4 linked regions of the Homo sapiens genome follow. The protein of the gene in region 3 interacts with the protein of the main gene of each other region in a pairwise test. Each region holds a gene or a part of one and is shown on either strand. Other genes may lie near its edges.

Region 1 (7,558 bases), on a different chromosome or scaffold from region 3:
AAGTAGCTGGGATTACAGGCGCCCGCCACCATGCCCAGGTAATTTTTGTATTTTTAGTAGAGACAGGGTTTCACTATGTTGGCCAGGCTGGTCTTGAACTCCTGACCTCAGGTGATCCACCCGCCTTGGCCTCCCAAAGTGCTGGGATTACAGGAGTGAACCACCACACCCAGCCAAGAATGTTTCTGCATCCTGCAACTCAACCCTGCCCTTTCCCCTTTCAGACTTAGATCCCTTTCCCCCAGCCCCCGATACTATAGACTCCTTAGGATTATTTATTTTTACCTCATCTCTTTTCTTTTTTTTTTTTTTTTTAGACAGTGTCTCACTCTGTCACCCAGGTTGGAGTGCAGTGGCACAATCTCGGGTCGCTGCAACCTCCACCTCCCAGGTTCAAACAATTCTCTCCTGCCTCGTCCTCCCGAGTAGCTGGGATTACAGGCATGTGCCAACGTGCCTGGCTAATTTTTTTTTTTTTTTTTTTTTTTTTTTTTTTTTTTGAGACGGAGTCTCGCTCTGTCGCCCAGGCTGGAGTGCAGTGGCGCGATCTCGGCTCACTGCAAGCTCCGCCTCCCGGGTTCTCGCCATTCTCCTGCCTCAGCCTCCTGAGTAGCTGGGACTACAGGCGCCCGCCACCACGCCGAGCTAATTTTTGTATTTTCAGTAGAGATGGGGTTTCACTGCGTTAGCCAGGATGGTCTCGATCTCCTGACCTTGTGATCCACCCGCTTCGGCCTCCCAAAGTGCTGGGATTACAGGTGTGAGCCACCGTGCCTGGCCAACAAAAGTGCCTGGCTAATTTTTGTATTTTTAGTAGAGGTGGGGTTTCACCATGTTGGCCAGTCTGGTCTCAATCTCCTGACCTCAAATAATCCACCTGCCTCGGCCTCCCAAAGTTCTGGGATTACAAGCATGAGCCACCATGCCCAGTTATCTTTTTTCTTTTTCTTTTTCTTTTTCTTTTTCTTTTTCTTCTTTTCCTTCCTTCCTTCCTTCCTTCCTTCCTTCCTTCCTTCCTTCCTTCCCTCTCTCTCTTTCTTTCTTTCCTTTTTTATTTTTTGATGGTGTCTCACTCTGTAGCCCAAGCTGGAGTGAAGTGGCGCCATCTCGGCTCACTGAAACCTCCGCCTCCTGGGCTCAAATGATTCTCGTGCCTCAGCCTCCCGAGTAGCTGGGACTACAAGCCCGTGCCACCACGCCCAGCTAAATTTTGTACGTTAATAGGGACGGGGTTTCACCATGTTGCCCAGGGTGGTCTCAAACTCCTGAGCTCAGATGATCTGCCCGCCTTGGACTGAGCCACCGTGCCCAGCCTTGGTTATCCTTTTTTCCTAAGATGACAGTGAGAAAGGGGAGGTAGGAAAGGTGAACAGCAACACATCATATCATTCTATTTTGTTGTTGTTGTTGTTTTGAGACAGGGTCTTTCTCTGTCGCTCACCCAGGCTGGAGTGCAGTGGCACGATCTCGGCTCACTTCAACCTTTGCCTCCCGGGTTCAAGCGAGTGTCACGCCTCAGCTTCCCAAGTAGCTGGGATTGCAGGTGTGTGCCACCATGCCTGGCTAGTTTTTGTATTTTTAGTAGAGACGAGGTTTCACCATGTTGACCAGCTTGGTCTCGAACTCCTGACTTCAAGTAAGCCACCTGCCTCAGCCTCCCAAAGTTCTGGGATTACAGGCATGAGCCACTGCGCCCAGCCATCACTCTCTTTTCAAAATAAATATCCACATTTTGCCAGCTGGTGTTCTGACTGGTACTTGCTCCTCAATTTTAGGAAAGAGCATAGTCCAGGCACAGTGGCTTATGCTTGTAATCTCAGCATTTTGGGAGACAGAGGCAGGTGAATCATGAGGTCAGGAGTTTGAGACCAGCCTGGCCAACATGGTAAATTGTCTCTACCAATAATAAAAATAAACAAATAAATAAATAAAAATTTAAAAAAATATAGCCTGGTGTGGTGGTGGCTGCTTGTAATCCCAGCTACTCAGGAGGCTGAGGCATGAGAATCTCTTCAACCCAGGAGGCGGAGGTTGCAGTGAGCTGAGATTCCCACCACTGCACTCCAGCCTGGGCAACAGAGGGAGACTCCGTGTCAAAAAAAGAAAGTAACCATTTTGGCCAGGCATGGTGGCTCACGCCTGTAATCCCAGCCCTTTGTGAGGCGGAGGCAGGTGGATCACAAGGTCAGGAGTTTGAGACCAGCCTGGCCAAGATGGTGAAACCTCGTGTCTACTAAAAATACAAAAATTAGCCAGGCATGGTGCAGGTGCCTGTAATCTCAGCTACTCTGGAGTCTAAGGGAGAGAACTACTTGAACCCGGAAGGCGGAGGTTGCAGTGAGCCTGAGATTGCACCACTGCACTCCAGTCTGGGCGACAGAACAAGACTCCATCTCAAAAAAAAAAAAAAAAAAAAACCGTCATGGAAAGAATAGAACCACAGAAGAAAAGGGAAAGTGTCTTATAATCATTGAGAAAATGTTAAGGCTAAAATTTAGTGTATCAAGCCTTGAAGAATAAAGAACTGAAAGTACATGTCATTAATTTCTTTAAAAATATAAAATAGTATAGATAATAGAAAAAGTAGATTTCACAAAATCCAAGACGTTTTGAAAAAGGCATCCGTTTGGAGTTCAAAATAGTTTTTAGCAAAGTAACTATTTATAAACTGGCTAATTCTTCCTATTCAATATTTCCAATAGCCTCCAATATTTCACTTCTTTCTTTATCATGAGCCAGACAGACCCTTGAGAACACAGCTTCAGTGACAGCCCAGGTCACTGCACCATCAGGCTTCTGGGAATGGAAATTATTGTGAGTCCTGGAATCTTTAATATTACTCGATCAGTGGTTCTACACCTTTGCACCCTTTTCATTATTCCCTTAAATTGGGTCCTCCTCCCAGGTTAAAAGTTCAGTGTACTCACATGTGATAGTGCTCTGGAGAGTGCTGTCGTGATCGAAAGCAATGACGGTCACTTCACAGGGTGGTGGGCCCCCATCTTCCCCATTTTGCTGGCGGCTCAGACAGCAGCAGCGGAAGCACAGGGACGTCAGGCCACACAGGAGAAGCAGCGCGCCAATTACCACTAGCAACCTGCAAAAGCCCACGGGGCGAGTGGGAGCTCTGGGATCTGGCTTTTTTCCCAGCTCTGCTGTAACCAGTCTTTAATGTCTGTGTTTTGATTCTTGTCTAAACATTTTATAGAATAATTATAAATATTTTAATTTATAATTTTAATTTCAAGGCTTTTGCTTTATAGATACACCTCCTTATTTTGTCAGCTGCAGTAAGTCAATTCATTAGAACAAATAGTAAGACATTTAAGGTAGTTTGGGGGGCTGCTTCTTTTTTCTTTTCTGAGACAGAGTCTTGCTCTGTTGCCCAGGCTGGAGTGAAGTGGCACGATCTCAGCCTCCTGAGTAGCCAGTACTATAGGCACATGCCACCACACTCGACTAATTTTTTTTTTTTTAGACAGAGTTTTGCTCTTGTTGCCCAGGCTGAAGTGCAGTGGCACAATTTCAGCTCACCGCAACCTCTGCCTCCTGGGTTCAATCGATTCTCCTGCCTCAACCACCTGAGTAGCTGGGATTACAGGCATGTGCCACCACGCCCAGCTAATTTTGTATTTTTAGTAGAGACGGAGTTTCTCCAGGTTGGTCAGGCTGGTCTTGAACTCCTGACCTCAGATAATCCACTGTCTCGGCCTCCCAAAGTGCTAGGATTACAGGTGTGAGCCACCGCGCCCAACTTTTTTTGTATTTTTAATAGAGATGGGGGTTTCTTTATTTTGCTCAGGCTGGTCTCGAACTCCTGGCCTCAAAGTGATCTGCCTGCCTCAGCCTCCCAAAGTGTTGGGATTACAGGTGTGAGCCACCACGCCCGGCCAGGCTCTGCTTTTTAATTCACTAAAGTAATCTTCGTTGAGATATTTCTAGAACAGACTCCGAGGGAAGGACACAGTAATGGTTTGATGTTTGCGGAGGAGATGGTATTGAAAAAGGAAATCCTGACATATTGTCACATAGGTAGTGATGAAGTAATGAAATCTTACTCCATGAGATGCTAAGTAAGTAGGCAGGTTGTCATTTTTAATGGCCTTGAGGAATACAGTGTCTTTCTGGGTATTATAAGTGAAACTTACCATATATACCAGAGATGTACCCAGTCTGTGGTCAGGCAACTATAAAGAAAGAATAAAGTTTTCTACATTAAAAATATAGTCAATCCCTGTTATAACTCCAGACTCAGAAATATGAGTTACAATATGATGTGATACCTTGTTATAAATAAAGCACCATGGGTTATGTTTTTAAAATTCACTGTAGCTAGTTGAATCTTTTGCCAAATGATATGCTTTAAATAGTACTTTATACTATAGATGGCATTGTCTGAGTCATTTTGTAAATCATTATAAAACAAACTAGTGATCATTAGAAGTGTCCATAGAAAACATGTCTGTGCCTATTGCAAACATTTATGATAAAAATGACCAAGAAAGGGCCAGGTGCGGTGCCTCATGCCTGTAATCCCAGCACTTTGGGAGGCTAAGGCTGGCAGATCACGAGGTCAGGAGTTGGAGACCAGCCTGGCCAACATAGTGAAACCCCATCTCTACTAAAAATACAAAAATTAGCCGGCCGTGGTGACGCCATCTCAAAAAGAAAAAAAAAATACTAAGAAAGAACTTGGAATGCAAGTTTACAAAGAGTAACTTTGAAAATGGATGTGAAACTTAAGGCTTGTGTATATTTGAGGTCAATAAAATGTAAACATAAAGAAAATTTCAGTTATGAGTATGAAAGTCATACAATCACATTTGTAATTTATCTTTTGCAAGCTGTTGCAACACTCCCACTGAGAATGTAGGAAAAAAAAAACTTAGTTTCTTCCTGCTATACTCTCCCAACCCTCTGACACCAGATGTGGGTGGGTGAGGATTTCCGCACACACCAGGCAAGCAATCTTCCAGCAACAGACAACAGCTGAGCGTCCTCTAATTCAATTCAATGCCAACACCACCTGCTTGGAGATAGGATCCGATCCCATAGGGTGAGGACTCAGTCCCCTAGACGGCTCCCCAGAATTCTGATGCCAATCACAATTTGTTTTGCCTGTGCTTCTGACCTACTGGTTATAAATTGGGGGTTCCCTGACTCCCTCTTGAGGTTGCGTTAATTTGTTAGAGCAGCTCACAGAACTCCGGGAAACACTTACTTACATCTACAGTTTATTACAAAGAATATTACCGAGGATGCGGATGAAGAGATGCGTAGAGCAAAGCATGTGGGAAGGGGCACGGAGCTTGCAGGTCTTCCGAGTGCACCACCCTTCAGAAACCACTGCCTGTTCAGCTTTACAGAAACTCTTCAAATCCATCCTTTGGGATTTTCATGAAAGCCTCATTATGTAGGCGTGATTGATTAAATCATTGGCCATTGATGATCAACTTAAACTTCAGCCCCTCTACTTTCCTTGGATGTTGAGGGGTGAGGCTTTAAGCATTCTGCATTGGTCCTTCCAATGACCAGCCCCATCCTAAATCTACCTAGGGGCTGCCAGCCACCAATCAACTCATTAGCATGCAAAATGATGCTACTTACTTTGGGGATTTTAGAAGTTGTATGCTAGGAGATAGGGACAAAACCAAATATATATTCTCACAATATCACACCCACCGTAAAGAGTACCCTAATTTTTCACATCCAGGATCAAAACTAATTTGCATATCCACTGAGACCAAACAGGAAGAGGGAAAAAAGTAGAAGCCAACTTTACCATGATGAAAGCTAAATAATGTTCTGAGTTCACTATGGCAATTGTAAATTTTCTCTGTAAGAATGAAAAAAAAATAGGGATTGTATGGGAGAAGGAGAAGATAAGTTCAGGAATTGGAGAATGAGGGGAGGCAAAATATTTGTGTATCTTTGAAGAGTAGTAAATTTTGTTATTTAATAATTCTTTCTGATACAGGAATCTACTGAAATCTAGTGAATCTATTTTTATTCTCTGGTCACACATTTATAGAAAATATAGTTTTGTTTTGTTTTTCACTGAACAATGACTCCTCTTGGTTTTCCCACATTTCTTACTTGTTGAAAACTCTTCTAGTTCTAATTAGACTCTGGTTTATAGGAAAGGACTCTTCCTATGGTGGAAGATGTGTAAAACCTCAGAAAGCAGGTGTCAAGTAGTCAACACCCAATTTGCATGTGACAGGTAATCAAGGCTATCACCCTTTCCCTGGGTTTAACAGACCTGGCTATTGGGAAACCCTTCCCATGGCTAAATATGTATTTTTCTTCATCCTAAACACGTTTTTATTCAAAGTGCCACTACTTTTTAAAATTTGTATTTTACAGTTCCTTTAAGTGGAATGATTCTTTTGCATTTTTATCTTCATGTCCTCTGTGTCTACATAAGACTTAAGTGTGACAGGTTTGGATTAGTTGATAACTACATCAAAGTGATAGCTAAATGAAGTCTGCCCAATAAATGTTAACATGCCCTAAAAACTAGAAAATACTTTCCCAATTTAAAGTAATAATGTTACTTTGGAAATCACCCAAATATATATGCCAGTGACTAGATACTAAACCGTCTGTCCTGGTGAGTCACTGAGGAGCAGGGCTAAGGAAGTCTTTTGCAAGTCTCTATGACTGTATAAGTTGAGATTAATCGTGCTGCTTTGATGGGAAGATTGGCTTTGGGTAAAAACATGCTGTCAGCAGTGTTATTTTGAGTGCTTAAGATGACAAAAACACGTCTTTATTTTGTGATAAGTCATCTATGAGATCTATTACTTAAGTAAAAATAAATAAAAAGAAGTCATAGATGTCTAATGACATCTTGACTCTCTTTTGGGGTAGTGATGTTTTGGTCTGTTGCTCCTTCCTCCCAGCTTGAACTCTATACTTACTGTTCAGGATTACCACAGTTTTCCTCACATCTCGTCCCAGAAAGCTGTAGAAAGAGAAATTGTCTTATACAGGGAAATTGTTTTGGCCACTGTGTTCAGCTGCTTACCAATCATCTCTCATGGTTGTGCTGTGTTAGATCAAGCAGTAAGAAGGTCACGGTCATAGGGGCAGTCTATTTAGGACTGCCATTTTCATCTCTCCCATACTTGCTGGCTTTTGTACTTGAGGTAAGGGAACCTTGAAGAACAAATATCTCATCTGTTGTGTTGATGGTGGGTGAGCATCACCCTTTGTGAATGAGAGGTAGCCATTTACATTAATTTGTTTGTAGTAGAAAATTCCTGATCTCTCTGTCCCTTGGGATATTGCCATTGTCCTCCTAATTCCTGCCCAGTTGAATTCTACACCACTGCTCTTTTTTTATCCTGTTAGTGTGACAATGACTATACAAAGGAAGAAGGGGAAAAGCGAGGGGGCCAGTGGGACAGAGAGTCTTATTTATCGAATAGCTACTAGATGCCACTCAGACTGCTAACAAGTTTTTTTTTTTTGTTTTTTTTTTTTTTTTTTTTGAGTCTTGCTCTGTCACCCAGGCTGGAGTGCAGTGGCGTGATCTTGGCTCACTGCAACCTCT
Region 2 (7,558 bases), on a different chromosome or scaffold from region 3:
GGATTCAAGCGATTCTTCCACCTCAGCCTCCCGAGTAGCTGGGATTACAGGCATCCGCCATCATGCCCAGCTAATTTTTATATTTTTGTAGAGACGAGTTTTCACGATGTTGGCCAGGCTGGTCTTGAACTCCTGACCTTAGGCGATCTGCCCGCCTTGGCCTCCCAAAGTGCTGGAATTAATTACAGGTGTGAGCCACCGCACCTGGCCCTCAAAGAGAATCTTTCTACCTTCATCTTATTTTACTTCTTGGTAGCATTCTATAGGGTTGAAGATTGTACTTGTGAGTTTTGAGTTTCTTAATTTGTTGAATGGATGTGATTAATTTATATCTTTAGTGTGATCATGCAGAGAAATTTATGAGGGATAGTAATGGAAAAATTACAGGAAATCTGAAAATTTAATAAACTTGACATTTTTATTTTCTCACTAGTACAGGGTTATCTCTAATTATGAAATGTACTACCCTTTTCTCCTTTTCTGTATTATTTTGGAAAATTACAGCCTTATAATAGAGATCAGAAATGTGTTAACATTATGGCTGATCTATCTGACAACAGTGTTCTAAGAAAACAGTATCACAAATATACTTTCTCACCATAGTTGTTCAAAACAGAAGTTTTGTAAGCGAAGAATCAAGCATTTAAACCAAAGGAAAGTTAGAGTGATGTCATCTCTGGTTGAAAAACATAGTCTTTCTGAACAGATTTTCAATGTCCTTCAAGACCATAACTAATATAAAATTAAACAGTACAATTGCTAATAATATAAGCTGTACACTTTTTATATTAAAGTGATGCTTGCTACAACATGACTTTACTAAATTGGATTTCTGCAAAAGATAAAACACCAGGCATGGTTGCTCATGCCTGCAATCCCAGCACTTTGGGAGTGCTGAGGCAGGGAGGATCACTTGAGTCCAGGACTTCGAGACCAGCCTGGGTAACACAGTGAGACTCTGTCTCTTAGAAAAATAAAAAATTAGCCGGGCATGATGAAGCATGACTGTAGTCTCAGCTACTTGGGAGGCTGAGGTGGGAGGATCGCTTGAGCACAAGAGGCTGAGGCTGCAGTGAGCTACGATCATGCCCCCGCACTCCAGCCTGGGTGACAGGGCCAGACTTTGTCTCAAAATATATGAAAGTAGATAAAATTAGTTTACTTGCTGAACATGATCAAATATAGCAAGTTTCCAGTAAAAGACTATTAGGACAAACTATGTTAACACAACCTCAGATGATGAAGCATAGTTAAAACAAAACAAAACAGCTTTGGGCATATTCTATACTCCAACCTCTGTGGTGCAAAGGGACTATATGGCCAACCGGATGTTGAGGGAGTCACAGAACTGCTGCACATGTGGTTTTTAAACATGATTTTTAATTCCCCCTAAAGTGGAAGAAGTCATCTAACAAAATTTATTATGACTTAAATTGCTACTGCTTTATTTAGTTTTCCTCAAACTTTAACAAAATAAATAATTATGTAGTAAATTATAGTCATTAAGCTTGAAAAATGTTTCAATTGAATGGGAAAACTTCCTGTGATAAAGCCTCCAATCATCGAGTAAGTCAATATATTTTACATATAAATTTTCCAACATGTTAAGCACTAAGCTTTTAACTAAATAGCTAAGGGGAAATTGTTACCACCAAATGCAACACATATCCTGCCTTTTTGAATAACACATACTACTTATCTTGATTCCAATTCATCACTAAACATCACTTGTATAATTTGATCACAGTGATGTCCTCAGAGACAGTTGTATGCAGAATCCTATAAATTGTCTCAAGCTGCTATGCCTTTAATGTTCACCTTAAATTTATTTTTGTTCCCCTGACTTGCTGTCAGCTGTCACATTTTGTAGTTCACCCCTTCTGCAAGACCCTTTTGATACTTGTGATTTGTTAAGAAGCAGAAATCAGATAACCAAACTTGTTAGAATTCAATGTGAAGTAAGAATAAGTAGACTCTGGGTAGCTGCTGCCTCTACCATTAAAAATTTTTTAAAAAGAAGACTTTTTCAATTACCACTTAATTTGAACTTGACTTACCTAGACTACTATTAGTCGATATTAGTTTAACAGAGGGAAAATTGTTAATAAAGTAGATGTAATATGTAAACACATACATCATTTCCTTGTTCTGGATCTATCAATGATTTCATACTTTGACTATATCTAAATTATCTGCTTTTCCCAGCCTTCAAAGTGGTCTTTAATTCACCCCTGCTTTCCATGGGTTAAATTTCCTACAATGCTGAGATATTTATATTGGTTTCCTCCTGTCCTACGAACTTCGTACTGATTTCTGCCACAATAAATTTGATTAGATGAAAAAAAAAAAAGACTTTTTTTTTTTTTAAGATAGGGTTTCACTTCTGTTGCCCAGGCTGGAGTGCAGTGGCACAATCTTGGCTCACTGCAACCTTGGCCTCCTCAACTCAAGAGATTCTTGTGCCTCAGCCTCCCGAGTAACTGGGACTACTGGTGCGCCACTGTGCCCGGCTAATTTTTGCATTTTTCTGTAGAGATGAGATCTCACCACGTTGCCCAAGCTGGTATGGTACTCCTGAGATCAAGTACTCCACCCACCTCAGCCTCCCAAAGTGCTGAGATTACAGGTGTGTCGTCACTGCACCAAGCCAATGAGGCACTCATTTCTGAATAAAGTACAAGCATTAGTAACATCTCCCCTGGTCTCTCCAGATTGGTTATGCTGCCACAACTGAATTCTAAATGGGTTAAGTATTATACAATTACTTAGGCTTCTTTGGTAGGTATCAAATAAAACATCCACCTAAATTCTTAAGAACCTTGTTAAATAGTGGCATTTACAAACTCTCTATACAGATTCTGACAGCACATTTCTATTGGAAGACTATGGAATCACAATGAGGAAGGTAGTACTATATAGATCAGCAGCTGGCTTAATTGGCTTCCTGTAACTTACTTATTAACAAATTAGGTTACAAAATACAAAGTCAACTTAATGAATCATCGTATTTGGCATTGAACTCAAAGCTGAATTGTGTGAATTGTGAGGTGCTTTCCATAATTCAACTTGCTTAATTACCCATATGAATGAATCATTCATACCTCAAGCCTGCTAACACTTTTGGATACCTGATGTTTATGTAATAGTGATGTTCATTTGCTGAGTAAGGCATGAGTAGTTTCCTAGGTAAGCAGAAGCAGTCCTCAAAACAATCATGTGACGCAGTAACAACAGGGCTGTATTTTGAAGGCTCTAGAAACCGAAGACATGTATTTCAAGAGCCAAGTTACTTTTTTTTTTCTTTTACCACTTATCCTCAAGTTCTACAAGTTACTTACACTGCATCAATTCAAATACATTTGGTTATTAGATGTCTATTTTTTAAAGATGGACAAGATAAAATTGTGTAAATTTACAAGAAGTAATGCAAACTGCTAATAATGCTTATTTAAAGGAGTTATTAAAGCAACAGCTTACTACCAACCCTACGCTTCTGAAAAATGTGCACAGGTGGGAAAAGATATGGGCATAGCTCTTAGCATATTTTAACAACTGAAAATGTGGCAGGGAAAAAGTCTTTATTCTGAGAGTACAACCATCTTACTTTTGGGGTATTAAAATTACCTTTTATGAGATAATTCATTTTCAATGTTATTTGACAAAATTCAAAGTTGGTCATTCATTTTAGTCTCCTCATTTTTAGTAAATTTGCCTCCTGTAAAATCTAAGTTATGGGAACCACTAGAACATGTGTGAAAACAAGTTGCTGTGAGATGCAGTGATAGATTTTACAAAAAGAAGAGCATTTCATGAACACAGATCAGGATATCCAAAATTTTGGTGAGGTGGATTTTTTCCAAAGTCTGGTGACCAACTGTGGAAAAATAATTGGTTAATCTGACAGTGAGGCCCCTTAACAGTGTTGAAGAAAATGTATCCGAAAAAGCACCCAGAGTCAAAGAAGTGAGAGCAATGCTGTATTTATCCCCCACTGACATGTGAGGAAAGAACAATTTTGGACATACACCTTGTAAAACTTCTCAAAAACCAGACTACATTTCTAACTCTAAAATACATGCTGCTGGTCATGAAGATGTTACGATCATATAATTGAACCTACTGACATTACATGTAATAAATTAAAAACCCAAGTACCATGCTTAGTGTAGTGTCTGGTACATACAAGTGCCCAATAACAATTAGTTTTATTTCTAGAAGGATTACCTCTGTCTGCCTCTTGTACATTCTTATAAAAAGAAAGCAAAGTGAACTGAATAAACTGTATCTTAAATAGACTAAAGAAAAGCTTTTGTATTTGTCTTTTCTCAACTAAGCAGTTTCCAGAGTGCCTAGCAAGGTCTCAGAAACGCACTCAGTGAAGGGAGTTAAATGGTAACTCTTTTACAACAGAAAGGATTCCCTACAGAGCCCAGCAGAGGCGGAGCACTAGGTTGCCCAGCCTGGCCTTGAACTCCTGGGCTCTTGTACTGCAGCCATCCTCCCACCTCAATCTTCCCAGCAGTTGGGACTACAGGCCTGTGCCATGGCACCTGGCTAAGGATAGCTATTATGAGAGTAGTAATGTAAGATGAAACTAAAAAGATTCATAATAGTAGGATTAAAAAGCACAAAAATTTTAAAGATTCTCCAGTACGTTTATTTCACAAACTTTTTTGTACAGTTGACCCTTACACACGGGTTTGAACTGGGTGGGTACAATTACGCGCATACTTTTTTCAATCAAATGCAGGTGAGGTCACACAGATCAGCATTTGTGCATGGGATGTGAAACTCATGTGTACGGAGGGTCAACTGGAGGGCCAACTTTTCTACATATGGGTTCTGCAAGACTTTCTGTGGGACTTGAGTATGGGCAGATTTTGGTATATGTGTGGCCCTGGAACCAGTCCCTAGCGTATACAAGGGATGACTGTATTTTAATGGTTTATAGTGTTAAAAAGAGAAAAATATCCACATAAACACAATTTTGAACACTGAACTATTTTAATATGAATTAATGTCTTATGTTTATTACCAATTATCTTCAAATTGCAGCAGCCCATGAGTTTGGTTGTAAGTGTTCTTGCCATTCCACCCCAGCTGTCACTGAGTCAGTTTAAAATACACACACACACACACACACACACACACAGACACAAGCCTTTTGTAAAGTAAACAAATCTTTTATACTGTAAATAACTGTTCCTCAATGGAACTTTTTGTATCCAGTTTACTTCTTTTCTAAAGCTGGGATATTCATATTAAATACACAACAATCTCTATAAAGCAAAGAGTCTATCTCTGTGAAAACACAAGTAATTCTTGATGGCAATATTTTTCTTAATTCACCTAACCAAATGCAGTTTGGAAGGCCAAAACGAGAAAAAAACACTTCAGATTATCAAAACCAAAAGAGATATGAAAAAATAACATATTTAACAATGTAGGTGGGAATTTTAAATACAAGATCCTGTTGAAAATATTGATATTCAAAGAAACAAACAGCTTTGGATCCATAGCCACAATTTAGGTTTTCCTAGATTAAAATCAGAAGTGATTTTATTGTTGGAAGATACATTAATTCTTTGAAGTCAGAATAAGAGGCTTGACAATTTAATTTCTAATTAAGTGACTGAATAGACAAAGGATCAAATACAAACAGTAGTGCAGGAAGAAAATAAATTGGAAGAAATAATTGTTCAACCAGTAGTAATAATTAAGACCACCATTTTAAAATTTTCTATACACAAAGAATGAGAAAATATTGTTATTATTATTATACTTCTTTCTTCTTCAGTATTAGTGGACCCACATTATCTCCTGTCAATTCATTGTGTTTATTATGTGAACCATCGCAGGCAGGAAACTAAAAAGAAAAAAGAATTACAAGTGTTATTTTTAAAATATGATTCATTAGGTAGAAACATTTGTGAAATGCTCTCAGAAAGAAAGCATATCACTTGCTAAAAAAAATCAGATCGTTTTCCTGAGTAATAGTTACATTCTACATCCAACTGAACCATATTCAAAATCTAACAATTTAAACAGTTACTTCATTATTTGGTTTAGATTTTAAATAAAAACCTATGAATGAGTCCATATGAGTGATTAAAATAGACAACAGGTTTAAAAGGGAATCGAATAAGTTCTTGGTCATTTGTGGAGCTTAAAATTCGAGCTCACCTATTGCTTAATTTTAAAACAATGGAATTTAATTCAAAATAAATTATAATTTTTTCTTGCTATAAAACTCATGCATACCACACAATTTTTGAAAACAAAAATATATTTTAGGCTGGTGCGGTAGTTTACGCCTGTAATCCCAACACTTTCAGAGGCAGAGGTAGACAAATCACTTGACATCAGGAGTTCAAGACTAGTCTGGCCAACATGGTAAAACGCCATCTCTAACTAAAAATACAAAAGTTAGCTGGGCGTGGTGCATACGCCTGTGTCTCGGGTACTTGGGAGGCTGAGGTGGGAGAATTCCTTGAACCCAGGAGGTGGAGGTTGCAGTGAGCTGAGATCATGCCATCACACTTCAGCCTGAGTGACAGAGCAAGACTCTGTCCCCCGCAAAAATAAATAAAGAATAAATAAAAATAAATTTTAAAAAATTCACTCATAACCCATCCAGATACACATAATAATAATTAACAGTTTGGTATATTTTTTCCTATGCATTTATTGTGTGTATTCTTTTTTTTCTTTTTTTTGTGAGACAGTCTCACCTTGTCGCCCAGGCTGGAGTGCAGTGGCGTGATCTTGGCTCACTGCAACCTCTGCCTCCTGGGTTCAAGTGATTTTCCTGCCTCAGCCTCCTGAGTAGCTGGGACTACAGGTGCATGCCACCACGCCTGGCTAATTTTTTTTGTATTTTTTAGTAGAGACGGGGTTTCACCATGTTGGTCAGGCTGTTCTTGAACCCCTGACCTGGTGATCCACCTGCCTCGGCCTCCCAAAGTGCTGGGATTACAGGCGTGAGCCACCGCGCCTGGCCTGCGTGTATTCGTTTTTTAAACAAAATTGGGATCACACTGTAATATGCTTTCTTACTCATATCAGGATCTCATGTCATTATATATCCTTTAAAAACATGATCATTCCCTTTTTATCAGATATTTAGTTTATAAAAATTTTGCTATTACAAAGGATGCTGTGATGAGCAATACTGTATTAAAAACCTCAAATAATCTATGATCAAGTACAAGAAACAGATTTTGTCAACTACTTATAGTACTTATCACTCCAAACTCCTTCCCACATTAAAAATCATCTATAATTGAGGCTATCATTTACTACCTCATATTATTAAAGCAGTTTACATATATCATCTCACTTCTCAAAGATATGTAATGTGGATGTATCAGGTTAAAACAAACCCTGAAGATTAGAGATTAAAAATTAAGTAACTTGTCCAACCAAACTCATACTGTGACAAGTATATTTGACCACTATTTACTATGACACCAAAGCTTTTTTCCATTAAACCTTAGGTCCTCTCTCAAAGAATGTGTATTTTAAAATACATGTTACTCTACATAAATGCCAAACATTG
Region 3 (7,558 bases):
AGCAGGAAGAAGGGGAAGGGAAGACCCCCTCCCGTCACCCCGTCCCTTACAGCAAGAAGTGTCCAGATGCCCCTCTGCATACTCCCCTGGTGAACTGCTGCCCAGGACTGGGTCCCCCTTTTAGTCTTGCTGCGTAGGGGCCCCAGAAGACAGATATCTGGATGCCTCGACCCTGAAACAGAGGTGGGAAGTGGAAAGAGGGAGGCGAGTGGCTTTTGAGGAGGGGGCTTTTGTATAAGAGCTGGAGGATGCCCGGGAACCACTGAGCTGTTAAAATAAAGTCTGCAAACAAAGACCAGCTGCTGGAAGTGGGTGTGCCGGGGAGTGCGCAGAGACACAAGGTGAGAAAAGAACAATGGTGATTTTGGAGCCGCCCCTAACTGGGATGGGCCTGAATCGGTATTATCATTATTACTTATAGTGTCATTATTAGTCATTTTCATCTTGTTTGTACACTCCCTCTATCTCTCCTCTCCACCTTTTCCTAATATTGTATCACCAGTTTTATGTCCTCCATTAGCAACTTTGTAGCTGTAAACAATTTACTTACAACTTTCTTTCTTATACTCTCAGTTTTACCTAGTATTTCTTGACTCCCCTCTTTAAAAGATGACAATATTAATCCTCCTTCTCCTTCGTTCAGTGCTTCACATCCCAACTGCTACCTTTGTGCTTTAAGTTTGTACTAATCGGTAACAAGTATATTTAGTTCTCATATTTATATGCTCTGTTCTGTTCTCAAAGTTAAAAATCAATCAAGAGTGTTTACATTTTGTGATGTTTTAAATACTATTTACTGTGGAGCTGAGTTGTACACCATGTTTGCACATGTTTTGTGGCACAGCTTTACTTTTTCCTGATGTTTCTAATTGCCTTTGTTTTTTTTCCTCCCTTGTACTGCTTGCCTTCTTCATTTCCTCAGTTTCTCTCAAACTGTGAATCCTTTGAGGTATTCTATTGAGTCCCTTTTTCCCACAGAACCATTCCCTTTTTATTCCATCCTGGACTGGTCGTTTTGTAGGCCTACTGCATGTCCCACTGTGATCCTCAGATTCCCTTCTCTCTGGGTTGATTTTCCTGTTTTCTGGATCCCATGTCTTTTTCTTTCTTGGTTATCCCCACCTGCCCTCCATGGATGCACAACACATACACACACACACACACACACACACACACACACCCACCCACCCACCCTTTCTTCCTCCCGGTGGCTCATTCTCAAGTAGCTTTCTTAGAACACCCTGTGACCCTGTGCCTGGTAACTTTTCTATTCCCCATATAGCTCCTTTTCCTCTGTCATCTTTTTGGTTTATTTTCTGGAGGATTTCCGTGACTTTCTTTCACATGGTCTCTCTAGACTTGTTTATTTGATCATCACCTTTTAGTTTCTAGAAAATCTCTTTTTTTGTTTGTTTCATTGATTTTTCTTCTTTTCTATATATCTTGTTTTAAGTTTATGAATAAAATATTTTTTAATCTCCCTGAGGACATGGGTTTGAGATTTAAAAAATTACTTGTTTGTTCTGGACTCCTTTTGTATTTGGTCATCTTGGTCTGTTTCCCCACTTTCACCTTTCTCCAATTTCTGATCCTAGATCTATTCATATTGAACGGGGTGGGGGGCAGGTCTACTGGCAGTCTTCCCTGTAGGGTGATTGAATGGGAACCCACTGAAGTGTCAGAATACAAAGATATTATTTCTGGGGCATATTGCTTCAGTCATGAACTCTCTGATTTTTTTCACTGGTGTAGACTCAAGGCTGGCATGAATCCCATATGGCACGTGGGCCTGGTGAACTCCTCCCCTCTCTGAGGCTCTGCCTAGTAGACCACTCTGCCTGGCTGGATGCCCTCTTGGCATTGCTGTGGTTCACAGCTCCCTTCACCCCTCTTTATTCAGTTGTCATTTCTTCAGCCAGTTCTGTTTTCCAACATCTCTTGGCATCTCTGATCTCCTGTTGCCCTCATTTAAATTTTCATTGGCAGCAGAGGGTGCAGAGGCAGTGCGTGAGTTCTTGAGTCCGTCTGTCTGGGTGGGAACCCAGTCTTTACCACGTAGTAGATTCTGAGCTTGGGCAAGTCACTGAACATCTGTTTCAGTTTTCTTACCTGAAAATGGAAATACCAATGGTACACACTTCCTAGGTTCTTGGAAGAGTTCTGTGAGTTACTATTTATAACATCTTAGAGCAATTAGTGGTGCAAAATCCACCAATGTTTGCCCACATTAACATTAAGTGCCATTATACCTGTAAGTGCCTTGACTATGGCTGTAGTTTGATCTCAGGAGGGGAGGTTGATAAATGCTCTTCTGTCTTCTTAAAACAGTGCCTAAAGATGATTAATATGATTAACATTTGCTATTTTCCCTCACCTCCCAGGGTAAGATAATCAGGAGCAGAATGTGAAGAACTTTCCTCTATATAAAGATCAGCATTTATTCAGGCCGGGTGTCGTGGCTCATGTTTGTAATCCAGCACTTTAGAGGGCAGGGTGGGAGGATCCCCTAAGGCCAGGATTTTGCCAGCAGCCTGGGCTGCATACTAGGAGTGAGACCTTGTCTCAAGGAATAATGTTTTGTTTTGTTTTGTTTTCCTGAAGAAAAGACTACTGAGAGCCAGTAAGACTGAAAGAATGGACATCTTCATATCCTGTTAGTTTGAGTGTGAATTTGTACAGTTTTCATACAGAGTGGCTCTAGGTATAAAAACTTTTGAGATGTTAATAGCTTTTGACCTAGTCATTCTACTCTTAAAAGTATCTTAAGGAAATAATCTCAAATGTGAGCAGTTTTACGTGAGGGAGGATATTCTTTGTAGCATAATTTATATGAAGAATTAGAAACACCCTAAGGTCCATCAGCTAGGGGAGGACAGCAGAGGGGACGGGGAAGCATCAGGAGGGCTCGGCAGCCACAGCAGGGGCTGGGCCGGCATCTAGCAGGATCCAGGTCTTTGTGGGACAAAGAATCTTAGAGAAGCAACGGGGACACAGGCTGTCCACTGCAGCACCAGTGAGTTCACCAAGACGAAGAGTTGAGCACAGAGTGTGAGACAGGGATTTGCAATGAGGAGTCATTTACCATGAGCGTGTATACATGACTCAATATTGTATATTTAAGGGAGTAGAGCACAGTAATTGAAGACATGGGATTGAAGCAGAAGTCCTGGCTCTAGCACTATTGTGAAAACACCCATAAGTTCCCTAACTTTTGTGGATTCCTCTGTGTTCAAATGGGAAAGTGGTACCCATCTCCTGTCCTGTGTGTGATCATCGAATGAGATACATGTCAGAGGCCATGCACATCACAGACACACAATACACACTGGCTATCATCAACTAGTTATCATACATGTTCCCAGGCCCAGGTCATTGTCAGAATGTTCCCTCCCATCTCTATTCCTGTGTATAGACTCTGTAGTTTCTGTAATGATCAGATGGCTGCCCCTCCTCTGATTATCTTCTTCTCATACCCCTACAGGACAAGAGGACCCTGCCTTGGTGTGAGAGTGAGGGAAGAGGAAGCTGGAACGAGGTGAGTTTCTGTAAATACTAGCTGGCAGGGCCCCAGGAGATAAACACTCTGGACATTTGCTGCTACCACAGAGGGATCTGCAAAGACCCAGCCCCTCCAGCCTCCCTCTGTACACAGGAGGCTCACCTTCGATCCCACAATTTGTTTTCTCGTTCTCAAGGGTTAAGGAAAACCTTCCAGTCTGGACAGTGACTGGAGAGCTCCAAGGAAAGCCCCTCGGTAACCCAGCCGCTGGCACCATGAACCCAGGTAGGCTCGCTTCCTCTTTCCTGGCTAGTTCCTACTCGCACCTAGAATGGAGGGTGGCACCTCCACAGCTGAGTGAGCCCCAGAAGAACCCAGATGGACTAGGAGGCCAATGAGTCTGCCCCGAGCAGCAGAAGAGGTCACGTGGAGTCCCCCGACCCAGGGGTCTGGGGGTCATCTGCATCCTGACCTCTCCTCGGGGTGACACGGCCCAGGTGCCCACTTCCTCCCTACCCTGTCACCCAGCAGATGACTCAAGTGGGGCAGGACAGCCATGAGGAAGTGGAACAAGCAAGAGAGGGGAGTGGGGGAAGAGCAGGGTCCAGGAGGAGGGGAGGGGTGGGAGAGGAGGTTGACCTGCAGCCCTGATCTCTTATCTACCGCTCTTCTCCCTGCTGACCCAGGGTTTTTTCCAGCACAGGCCGGTCCCCTCCCTCCAGCTCTTGCCCTGCACCAGCCCCTCTGTTCTGAGTGGCCCTATGGGAATGTATCATGCTTGACCCAGCTTCCAACTTAAATGGACCCCGGTCTGGCCTTTTCCAAGTCCCTTCTGTGTGACCTGGAGCTCCTTACCTCCCCTCTCGTGTACCATGAAAATAATATTTCCCCATGTTGTCACGAAGATTAAATATTATAAGGGTACCTGGCCTGGCCAAAGCCTGCCACACAGTAGGGCCTCCCTAAGAATTAGTTTGCATCCCCTCTATCTCCTCTATCTATCCCCTGTTGATTCCAGGTGGAAGCCACCCAGTCCCCTCATCTGTGTTAGGGCACCCGCCCTGCACTGCCCATCACAAGCACCTGCTGACCAGGGATGACTGCCTCAGGCAGGGCCTCATTCCCATGATCTCAGATACCCCTTGTCAAAGAAAAATCTGAGGCACAGTAACATTTATTTGAATAAGAAGGAATTCATGAATTGAGAAAACCAAACTGGAAGAGGCTTCATGTTATGATGAAAAAGTGTCAGAGACAAGTATTTATCGAGTAAATATGAAACTGCAATAAGGACATTATTTGATTGGTTGCAGTTACAAAACTGCCTGTTTTGATTTACCTTTTTGGAAAATTCCTGGTCACATTGGTGCTGGTGGGTTTAGGAAGTTCTCCGAATCCAGGAGAGACCAGACCTTAGCCTTGTCCAGGTTTTTGACTCCACTGAGAGAAAAAATTTGAGTCAAAGAAAAAACAAATCAGCTGCAAAGCAGAAGCACAGGCTCAGGGATGGAAGTGCAGGTGGACTCAGAAGAGCCAGTTGGGCCCAGTGGGGTTTGGGGTTTCTGTCTTTGATGGTTTATTAAATTAAGGGGTTGGAGCCTTGGGAGGACTCTCTTGCTGGCTTGCGGCAGCTGCCTTTGCGCTGTGTGCTTACCTGGCCTTATTGTTTCTCTTTCTCTTCTTACAATAGGACACTAGCCCTCTAGTAGGATTAGAGCCCTACCCTTGTGATCTCATTCAGTCTTAATTGCTTCCTTAAAGGCCCAATCTTCAAATATAGTCACTCGAGTTTAGGGCTTCAGCATATGAATTTTGGGGGCACACAATCCCTCTATAGCACTGATGACTCCATCAAACATGTCCCACATCACAGTTGTCCAGGAAAAATTAACATGTAACCACCTAATGTGCAATGGCTGTTATGCTCCCCTACACTATCCTCCAACCTTATCCTTTCTTCTTTCCAACTAGAGAGCAGTATCTTTATTGAGGATTACCTTAAGTATTTCCAGGACCAAGTGAGCAGAGAGAATCTGCTACAACTGCTGACTGATGATGAAGCCTGGAATGGATTCGTGGCTGCTGCTGAACTGCCCAGGTAAGCTCCATGGGGTTAACTCCATGGGGCGCCCCAGCGATGCCACTCAGATCTCCCCTGGGCTGGTTGTCCCTGACAGGCACACCTCCTCCAGGCAGCCCCCTCTGCTGGGCTTGAGGATGACCTTCTCGGCACTCCAGGAGGAATATTTCCTCCATGTCCTTCGCTGGCAGTGAGTAGCCTCAGGCTGAGGGGATAGGAAGCCCACAGGAACAGGGTCATTTCTGCCATCTGCTGGTGATGGGAACTTTGCCAGTTACTTTCTCACTTTCAGCCTTTCTTCATCAATGGAGTTTTATTATGAGAAAAATGAGATCATGCATGTAAAGTGCTTAGCATAATGACTGACACATAGTAGGTGCACAGTTAACGTTAACATCTTACAAGCTTGGTGGAAAGAGACCAGGGTTAAGGATCTTCTTCTTGAAGATGGGAGCCCAGCAGGACTTCCTTTGGGAAAAGTCAGAAAAATCCTAACCTAAACAATATGTGTTCCTGGGGATGCTGGCTGGGGCCTTTTTTCTCATCTGAAGAATTCCACAAACACAGCAGGACCCTTCTGCTGGTCCAGGATCCTGAGAGGCCTAGTTCCTGGGCTCTGGGCTTATGTCATGGAGACTTGGAACTGTCTTCTGTCCAATAGGAATAGCAATTCAATGTCATAGGAGTGTGGTGAAGGCCTTAGAGGCAACTCCAGGTCAAAGGTGGGGAACCAAGGACTAAGATCCTGCTCAAAGGCCCAGAGAGACCGGGACCAGTGTCAGAGCCTGGAGTCAGGATGGAGTAAGAGTCAGCCTTGGTTTGGTAGGACAAGCAGGAAGGCTGGGGCACCAGGGCTGGGACTAGGGTGTGGAAAGAGAGGCACCAAGGGCTTGAAACTTAAGGAGGTCATGAACTTGCAGAGGACATGTGAGTGGGAGAGGGATATTTCTTCCCTGTCTGGATGATCCCAACACTCATGGGCATACAGGGTCATGGTAGCCTGTGTCTCTCACCCCATGCCTTGGAACTGGTGAGTTCTGGACTACCCTTTCAGACCTTCTTCTCTTCTACACAGAGAAGCTCCTTACCATGGCATGCCTTAGTGACCATTTCCAAAGTAGAATGAGTTGCTGCCAATTTGTGTAATTTCAGGGGTACTGAGCAGACTCACAAAGTCCCAACCGAGGAGGAAAACACTTCCTCTACCATCTTGACCAAATTCAGGTCTTTTCAGCATTAGCAATTTATATAGATGGTTCTGAAAGTGTCTTGAGTCTTCTAGTGGTTCCATAAAATTGCACATGGCCTTGCTGTGCACACAGGTGAAGCTGTCACTGCTAAGGCATCAGTTAGGCTGGTGACACCTGCGAGTGAGACCTGGAAGGTTGGGGGTGCAGGTGGTAGGTCAGGAGGCAGTAAGGTGGCTGGAGCGTCCATGTGGAGCCAGAATGAATAGCCAGATCTCCCACTCCAGTCAGCTGGGGCAGTGGCCGCACCCAGTAGCCTTCAGCCAGGTGAAAGGGCATGAGGCATTGGAAGGGAGCAGATGCCAGGCAAAGTGATCTCCTGTCTTTCTGAGGTTTTGTTTTTGTTTGAATTCAAAGTACTCAGAGATAGCCAGACTGCAATGTCTGAGGGCACCCTTACCTTTGACACCACCTGCAAATCTATGGGGATTCCTAAAATCATCCTTAGATTTTATAATTCACTAGAAGGACTCACGTAACTCACTGAAAACTGCTATTGCACGATTGTGGTTTATCACAGGGAAAGAACACAGATTAAAATCAGCCTAAGGAAGAGACACACAGGGCAGAGTCTGGGAGGATTTCAGGTGTGAATCTTCATTGTCCTCAGGAGGCTGTGTTCTCCTGTGTGAATGTGGGACAAAACACATGCGGTGTTGCCAACCAGGGAAGCTCACCCAGTTAAGGAAAAATTCCTGTGAATCACATTAAACCAGAAATGAAGCCTTTATT
Region 4 (7,274 bases), on a different chromosome or scaffold from region 3:
GAAAGAAATCTGGAGTTCAATATCACTGCCAGAATATTGCCTTGCTTTTTTAAAACAAGGTGACTAAATGTCAGACTAATTAGTGTAATCCATTTCACCCATAAATCTAGCACTATAATTCTCAAACTTGATTTTGCAACCCTAGTAACCTCAAGAGCTACTGCAAAACTATATCCAAATACTCAAAACAGGTTTACTTTTGATTCACCTTAAAAATTATAAGGACACATGTGCTCAATGTCAGCTTTTTATAAGACAGAGGAGAAGTGGTGAAATCAAATTAAAAATAGTACGATTTCATAATGCCCAAAAGCCTGTAAATGTCTATACTAAGGAGTTGGAATCATTCAAAATTCCCAGATAAACTGAATTTAAGCATTGATACATGATATGGTTTGGCTGTTCCCCCACCCAAATCTCATCTTGAATTGTAATCCCCCAAATCCCCATGTGTTGAGGGAGGGACCCCGTGGAAGGTGATTGGATCATGAGGGTGGTTCCCTCATGCTGTTCTTGGGATAGTGGGTTCTATAAAATTTATGGTTTTATAATGCAGTTTTCCCTTCTCTTGCATGCTCTCTCTCCCCTGTCACCATGTAAGACGTACCTCTTCCCCTTTTGCCATGATTATAAGTTTCCTGAAGCCTCCCCAGCCATGCAGAACTGTGAGTCAATTAAACCTCTTTTCTTTATAAATTACCCAGTCTCGGGTATGTCTTTATAGCAGTGTGAAGACGGACTAATACAATATGCTAATGCAAGTGGGAAAACTAAGATTGATTTTGGAATGAAACATGCAGTCTCAACTTAAGAACACCCAATTTACAAAACTATATATATCCAGACAGAGTCATACTGAATGCCATGTTCTCCCACATCAATGTCAAATGCTTAGCATGGCCAGCAAAAAGCTGTTCCTTTGCTGTAATGCAACCGTGTCTTCTGAATATGGATCCATATTCACTTTCCATCTTATCCTCCATCAGACACACTCTTCTTTTCCTAAAGCATTTGCAGGGCAACAGAGGGTTCCAGGTTTCAGAATTTAAACAGTCGTATCTCATTGAAAATAAGTTTAATGATTATTAAGTTTCCAAGCTAGATTACAGAAGTCTTTTTAGCCCATATCATAAATAAAATAGTTCTGAATTTTTCGTATGGAAAAATATACTCTGAGTTCCAAGCAAACAACTTAAGAAAATTTTTAGAACTAACACATTCCTATATTGGGAAGAGCTCAAAAGTCTGTTCTTCCTCCCCATCCACTGTTGTTTAATTAATCTCTTAATATCATAAAGTCCCTCATGTGCCAAGTGTAGACAGTCATTTTTGAATCAGGGCTCACTTTGTTAGCTTTTTTGTCAATTAAACCTCTTTTCTATATAAATTACCGAGTCTCAAGTATGTCTTCATAGCAGTGTGAAAACAGACTAATACAGGAATTTGGTACCAGGAGTGGGGCATTGCTATAAAGATACTTGAAAGTGTGGAAGCACCTTTGGAACTGGGTAACGGGTAGAGGTTGGAAGAGTTTGGAGGGCTCAGAAGAAGACAGGAAGATGAAGGAAAGTTTGGAGCTTCCTGGAGACTTGTTGAATGGTTTTAACCAAAATGCTGACAGTGATGTGGACGATTAAGTCCACACTGAGGTGGTCTCAGAAGGAGATGAGGAACTTATTGGGAACTGGAGTTGCCAATAGATCAGCAGTTAACCAGAAGCTTGAGTTGAGTATGGACCTGACATATGGATAGACATATTGACATCTTATGCTAGTGTTCTGGCCCTCCCTGCCCCGACAGTGATAGAAGCATCCATCAACGCCCATCCTGACATCAGCATAAAGCACAGGTTGGAGAGATTGTAGATAAAGGCAGAGAGGCTATTATAATGCTTCTCACCTCCAGTTCCCCAGATGGAAGACAAGGAGGCCCTGGAACAAAGGAATGGCATTTGGGACAAAGTGATGTTGGCAAGTAAGAAATGCAGCAGTGGTCCAACCCACAGGAGATGCCAGACAATTGCTCATGGCATGAGATAGGGTCATGAGGAAAAGCTGAAGAACTGAAAATCTTTCTTCTTCCCTCCCTAGGCATTCATGCTCCCACCTCATCTACATCCCACAGATCCTCCATTTTCTCTAGGTATGAGATTTATTTCCAAGCTAGACTGAAAGCTGGAAGAAGATGGGACACATGTCTGCTTCATTTTCTATTTCCCCAGCATGTAGGTGCAGCACCCAGCCCCTAGTTGTTTATCAATTATAGGTCTTGATGGTCATGTCCCCAGCCTCCCGCCTCAGGAGTAGGCTTCACATGTCTCCCTTTCAGAAACAAAGCCACGTAAGACTCCAAAACCCCGCCTTCCCTTGGGCTCCACACAATCAGCATACATCTTTCCTTATCTGTTTTGTGCTCTGAAAATCGTGTCTACCTCCAAATGATACATCTTTAAAGTGAGTCACCCCTCCTCACAATCTACTCCAAAATTTCCAACAAGTTTTCTTCTTTTCATTCTTCCTCCCACCAGCCTATCCTATTCCCTTCTCTCCCCCCACAAAATCTAGCTCTTCTTTAAATACATTTAAACATTTTCGCTAGGACATTTCATCTATACAGGATATGCTATATTCTAACTATTTCTTAGTAAACATTGAAGGGAGTTTCTTCCTTTATTCAAGTATGGAACCCTGCTCAATATCCTTTTGGTCTTCATATGCCTTCTTTCAAGGCCTTTGTGAAATTTTTTTCCATGCCTGAAAGCCGGTGGGGTTTTACACAGGGACTGCGATGGCTAAATCCAAGGCAGAGTGGGATCTTTATCTATTAACCATTTGATAACTCAAGTTTATCCCTTGATGAATGAATAAGTTATCATTTGCCTTTGGGTCCCATTCTTGAGTGGTCATGGAGAGTTCTGTAGCTCACCCTCTTTATACTCATAATTTGCACAAATTTCACCTAAGAGTATTTACTTAACCACTTTAATTCAATTTGTCTCTACCTAAGACATTTAATTCAACAAATATTTTTTAAGCTTCTCTATAAAAGGGACTCTGGCAACTTTCAGACCCGCACTGTAGCACCAGCTCTCTGCTGGCCCACCCCTTGCAGACTTTGGGCTTGCCTGCCTTCAAAATCATGTGAGTCAATTCCTTAAAATAAATATATTTTTATTTATTTATATATATGTTTGCACACACACGCGAATCTTATTTTTTCTGTTTCTCTGGAGAATTCTGACTAATGCACCCCCATTCACCATCCAGGCTTTTGAGGAGAAAGATACCAATCTTAGCAGCAGAGGACACTCTGGATAGAGCTAGGAGTTTGTTGCAGAGTCTGACAAAAGTTCCCTCTGCAGAAGGGATGGAAGGATAGCCTTGGGGGTTGATTTAGGACTGGGTGTATGACATGGGGGAAAAGAAATCCCTGGGGGAGCTAAATGAGGGGAGGTGGACCCCTTATGATAGTTTATCAGAGCAATCTAAGAAATCATGTAGGCCTCTAAGAAAGCATCAAGAATCAATGCAATTTGATTAATTGACTTAAAATATGTTGAACTTTTCAGCCTCCATTGTGTATTTTTGGTGCAATACTCTGTGCAACTATTTCATCCAAGACCAGAAGGGGCTGGAAGATTGCCTGCTTCACATTAAAACCCTCCTTATTGTATTGGTGCTGACACGACACAAGGATATGCAGTCTTTATCCAGTCCTTATTGCTCACAGAAAGATACCAGTCCTTACTGCTCACAGAAAGTAGTGAAGCCTCCCTTCACTCACAGAGCCCACACAGGTATGCCCTGGTTTATGTAATGAATGGGCTGCTACAAATAGGTGTGATGCATGCCTTTGTGAATCACTTTATATTTTGAAGACACATTAGAGGAGCTGGCTATTTCAAAGAAATTTCACAAGTGCCTCATTTCTTAATGTCACAAGCATTTCTGATTTATAATCATAACCCCTTTCTAATGTATTAGCTTATGAAGTTCCATTTTTTGCCTAAGAGGTTTAATCAAAGCAAGATAAAACTATGCTTAATAATATTCAGTTACCTGAAAGAGCTATTGCAGAAATGCCTAATATATTACCAGAAAGTAGCTTAATGTCTCAAATAAATGTCAAGTTGTCCAAATCAAACTGATAGGCAGCTTAATGAGGGATAAATGTCATAATTATCCATATTTCTCCACATTTTTTTTAGAAAAAAACATTCACACAATGAAGGGAATCAGAATCTGTTTTTATATCCCTAGAGTTATAAACATTTGTATCAAAATATTTACAATTATAGTATATGAAATAATCTATTAACGAAGAAGCCCAATACAGTACTAGAACAATCCACCAGAGTAATGCAAATTACATGAGACATAAATGTCACAGAAAAAAAGTAAAAGATAAGGGAATACATGGTTTACTCCAGTCATAGTTCAACTTCTTAACAAAATGTGAGTATTCCCTTTGGATATGTCTGAAATGTAAGTATGTTTTTTGCACTAAGACAGCCTTCTATAATCATGTGATAATGAAATCATAATGACAAAGTTCATCTTCCCACAGTTTTTGCTGGCCAATCTCTCTAACCTCAGCCTAGGTAATTTGGTGGCTTGCCCTCAACATTTCCTTAACTAGAATAAACATAGAGAAATAGAATTAGTAATAATCCTTTTACATAAATACCAAAAATCATGGCATAACAACTCCCCAAAAAGGAAAGGTATAAAAGAAATGGATGAGGAGAAAGCTAATAAAGAAAAGTAGGCAAGATGTCTCAGATTCTCCCTGGGGTAGATCTTCTCAGGGCGATAAAGAAAACGTCTTCCCAAAAAACCCCTTTAGACAGAATCTGAGATGGCTTAAAATAGCTGCTCCAGGGCAAAGCAATGCCTGCTTAACCAGGAATAACATACTACTTCTAAGTCCTGTATAGAGGTGCTCCTGCGGCAGCAGACAGCTCGTCTACCATCTGACTAGGTACCACAAGAGTTTTTGCTTTTTTATTTTAAAGAAAAGATCTGCCCATCACCTATATTTTTATTTATCTCATGGGATTTTCGTATTTTCCTGGGAATGCAGGCACTCTGTTCTTATCATGGCTGAAATACGGTAGGCTTAATACTTCACAATTATATAGCACCTTTCACCCAAGGGCCTGTTGTTTGGTTTTGGTTTATGTGTGTTTTAATCAGCTTCCAGAATTGCCATGCCTCACCTGTGAAGTGGGATAGGCAGGGTCCCCAAGAGGTGATCACTCCAGGTGGTGTCTAAGCCAGAGCTACCACTGAGCCTAGGAGCCCTGATCCTCAATATTGATAATTAGACAAAACTTCCTCAAAAATGTTAGAGGAAGAGTAATAGGATTGTGCTACAATGAGCCATGTCCATCTCTCTCCTGTTGTATACTTAAAAGAAACACTGACTGCATTGAGGGGAATCCTAAAAACATAACCCTAACATGGCACTGTTGCAAGACTGCCCCTTGGATCCCATAGTTTGTGTGGTACTTTTACCACCGAATTGTTCACTAGTGACTTTAGAGAAACTCCAGAAGAGCTGCCTTGGCTTTCAGCAAGAGGCCTAGCAAAGACCATGGCATGAGGTCTCCATGAGGGACAGCCGTGTGTGAGGTCTCGACTGGGCTCTGACCATCCCCCAGGTTTTCCATTGTGAAAAGGTCTCCTTCTTGGTTTAGCTAACCCACCAGCATGACCTTACAAACTCTCTTTCCTCCTCCCATTTTGTCACTGAATTCCACAGAGCTAAATATCTGTTCCAAAGAGGGACAATGGCTCACAGGCCAAAGCCCCCCAGTAGGCACTTCAGACTGGAATGTGATGTTTTGCTTTGGGTCAGAAGGGCAGGATGGCTTCCAGGCTTAGCGTATTCAGCACAAAGACAGTATCTGCTCTTGCCAGAACTTGTACCGCTATTTTAACTCAGTGCAGTAGGTCTGTGGACCTCAGTGCATGACCCAGAAGTGGGGCTGGTGTTGTGGCAGCTGATGGGGCCCCAGACAGTGTGTGTCACTAAGAACAGCTGGAGGCCAAGTCTGGTGGCTGCAGGGAGGCTCTCTGGACCCCATCAAGGGAGCATCAAAGTACTAGCCAACTACTTTCTCCCCAGGGCAGGGGCTTGGCAGTAGAGAATCCCCTCAGTAATGGTTTGGGATTTGACCTCCCCCCTTTGCTTCCCCCTCCCCCCTCCCCTATCTCGGTTTTTCCTGTACAGCAACCTCCACTTCCCTCCCAGATTCAACGGCTTCCTCCTCCCCACCCCCCAGATCCCCATGAACTCGTCCGGCCTTATTTCTTTCTCAGGACCAGATAGAGAACGCCGATGATGAAGCTGAAGCAGAAGCAGATCCAGCCCAGGATGTAGGAATAGCCGTGGTGATACTGCGTTCCATCACGATTCGCATAATGACTAGTGTAGATGGACACCCCCACAAGAATGCACAGCCCTGCAGGGGAAAAGGAGATTTGTCGGTGTGTTTTCTTACATTAAAGTCGAGAAAAAGTTTTACTAATTTTAAGAAGATCCTATTTCCCTCATTAGCAATAGGAAAATGAATTCTGCTTGTTTGTCCCTAAACAGGAGTTCTGATGGATGTCCCCTGGGCCAAGCTCGACGGTATGTTGATAAATTAGAGGTGTCTGGGCTCTCATGTCTGCACTGGTTTGTGTGGCCACGCTGTGATGTAAAACACAGAACCTCATGCCTACCACCCAGCTGTCCTGTCTGGCCCTTGTGGGTCTAGGAAAGCTACTCAGGGATGCAAAAGAGCATGTCCTTCCACCAAACCGAGTATATTGGGAAAGAACAACAATTAAGTGAGAATCACAATAATGATGTGCATTGTGGCAGTGGTTTCATCTTTCTGAGAACTCCTACCTTTCTGCCTTCTTGAAGTGTCTTGTACACACGTGCTACTAACAGATATGCACTGCCACTTGGTAGCTACCCAGGAGCACTGGTTTTGAACAATGAAGCAGATGAGGGTTCTTAACCTAAGCAGCAATCCAAGGTTCTCCACAAGAGAACAAATAACCAGAGGAGAAAATTGCACAAGGAAGTTTCACTGAACCATGTGCTAATCTGTTCAAGTTGCCAGAAACACCCATGGTAAGATGGACTTAAAAGTGTAAACTGGAGTCTACCCATGAGATACTCACAGCACACCAGTGTGGTGGCCCCTGAGAGGAAGAACCGGTTTCCCTTCTCCATGGTGAAGAGCTGGAACACGAAGACCAGGAGGGCAATGACACAGA

Evidence for each region.
Region 1: the proteins of APOL2 (region 3) and TMEM52B interact in binary tests that used the Homo sapiens proteins (3 or more experiments, as listed by UniProt).
Region 2: the proteins of APOL2 (region 3) and CISD2 interact in binary tests that used the Homo sapiens proteins (3 or more experiments, as listed by UniProt).
Region 4: the proteins of APOL2 (region 3) and EMP1 interact in binary tests that used the Homo sapiens proteins (3 or more experiments, as listed by UniProt).

The regions. Positions count from the first base shown.
Region 1 is NC_000012.12:10,181,959-10,189,516, reverse strand, and holds part of TMEM52B (transmembrane protein 52B isoform 2 precursor), read right to left. Parts: intron 6,968-7,558; coding exon 6,924-6,967; intron 4,188-6,923; coding exon 4,149-4,187; intron 3,098-4,148; coding exon 2,928-3,097; intron 1-2,927.
Region 2 is NC_000004.12:102,885,649-102,893,206, reverse strand, and holds the end of CISD2 (CDGSH iron-sulfur domain-containing protein 2), read right to left. Parts: intron 5,867-7,558; coding exon 5,777-5,866; 3' UTR 400-5,776; downstream 1-399. UniProt on the Homo sapiens protein: Regulator of autophagy that contributes to antagonize BECN1-mediated cellular autophagy at the endoplasmic reticulum.
Region 3 is NC_000022.11:36,229,379-36,236,936, reverse strand, and holds part of APOL2 (apolipoprotein L2), read left to right. Parts: intron 1-88; exon of another isoform or gene 89-341; intron 342-2,601; exon of another isoform or gene 2,602-2,701; intron 2,702-3,481; 5' UTR 3,482-3,535; intron 3,536-3,695; 5' UTR 3,696-3,774; coding exon 3,775-3,784; intron 3,785-5,470; coding exon 5,471-5,597; intron 5,598-7,558.
Region 4 is NC_000012.12:13,213,726-13,220,999, reverse strand, and holds the end of EMP1 (epithelial membrane protein 1), read right to left. Parts: coding exon 7,179-7,274; intron 6,467-7,178; coding exon 6,309-6,466; 3' UTR 1,059-6,308; downstream 1-1,058.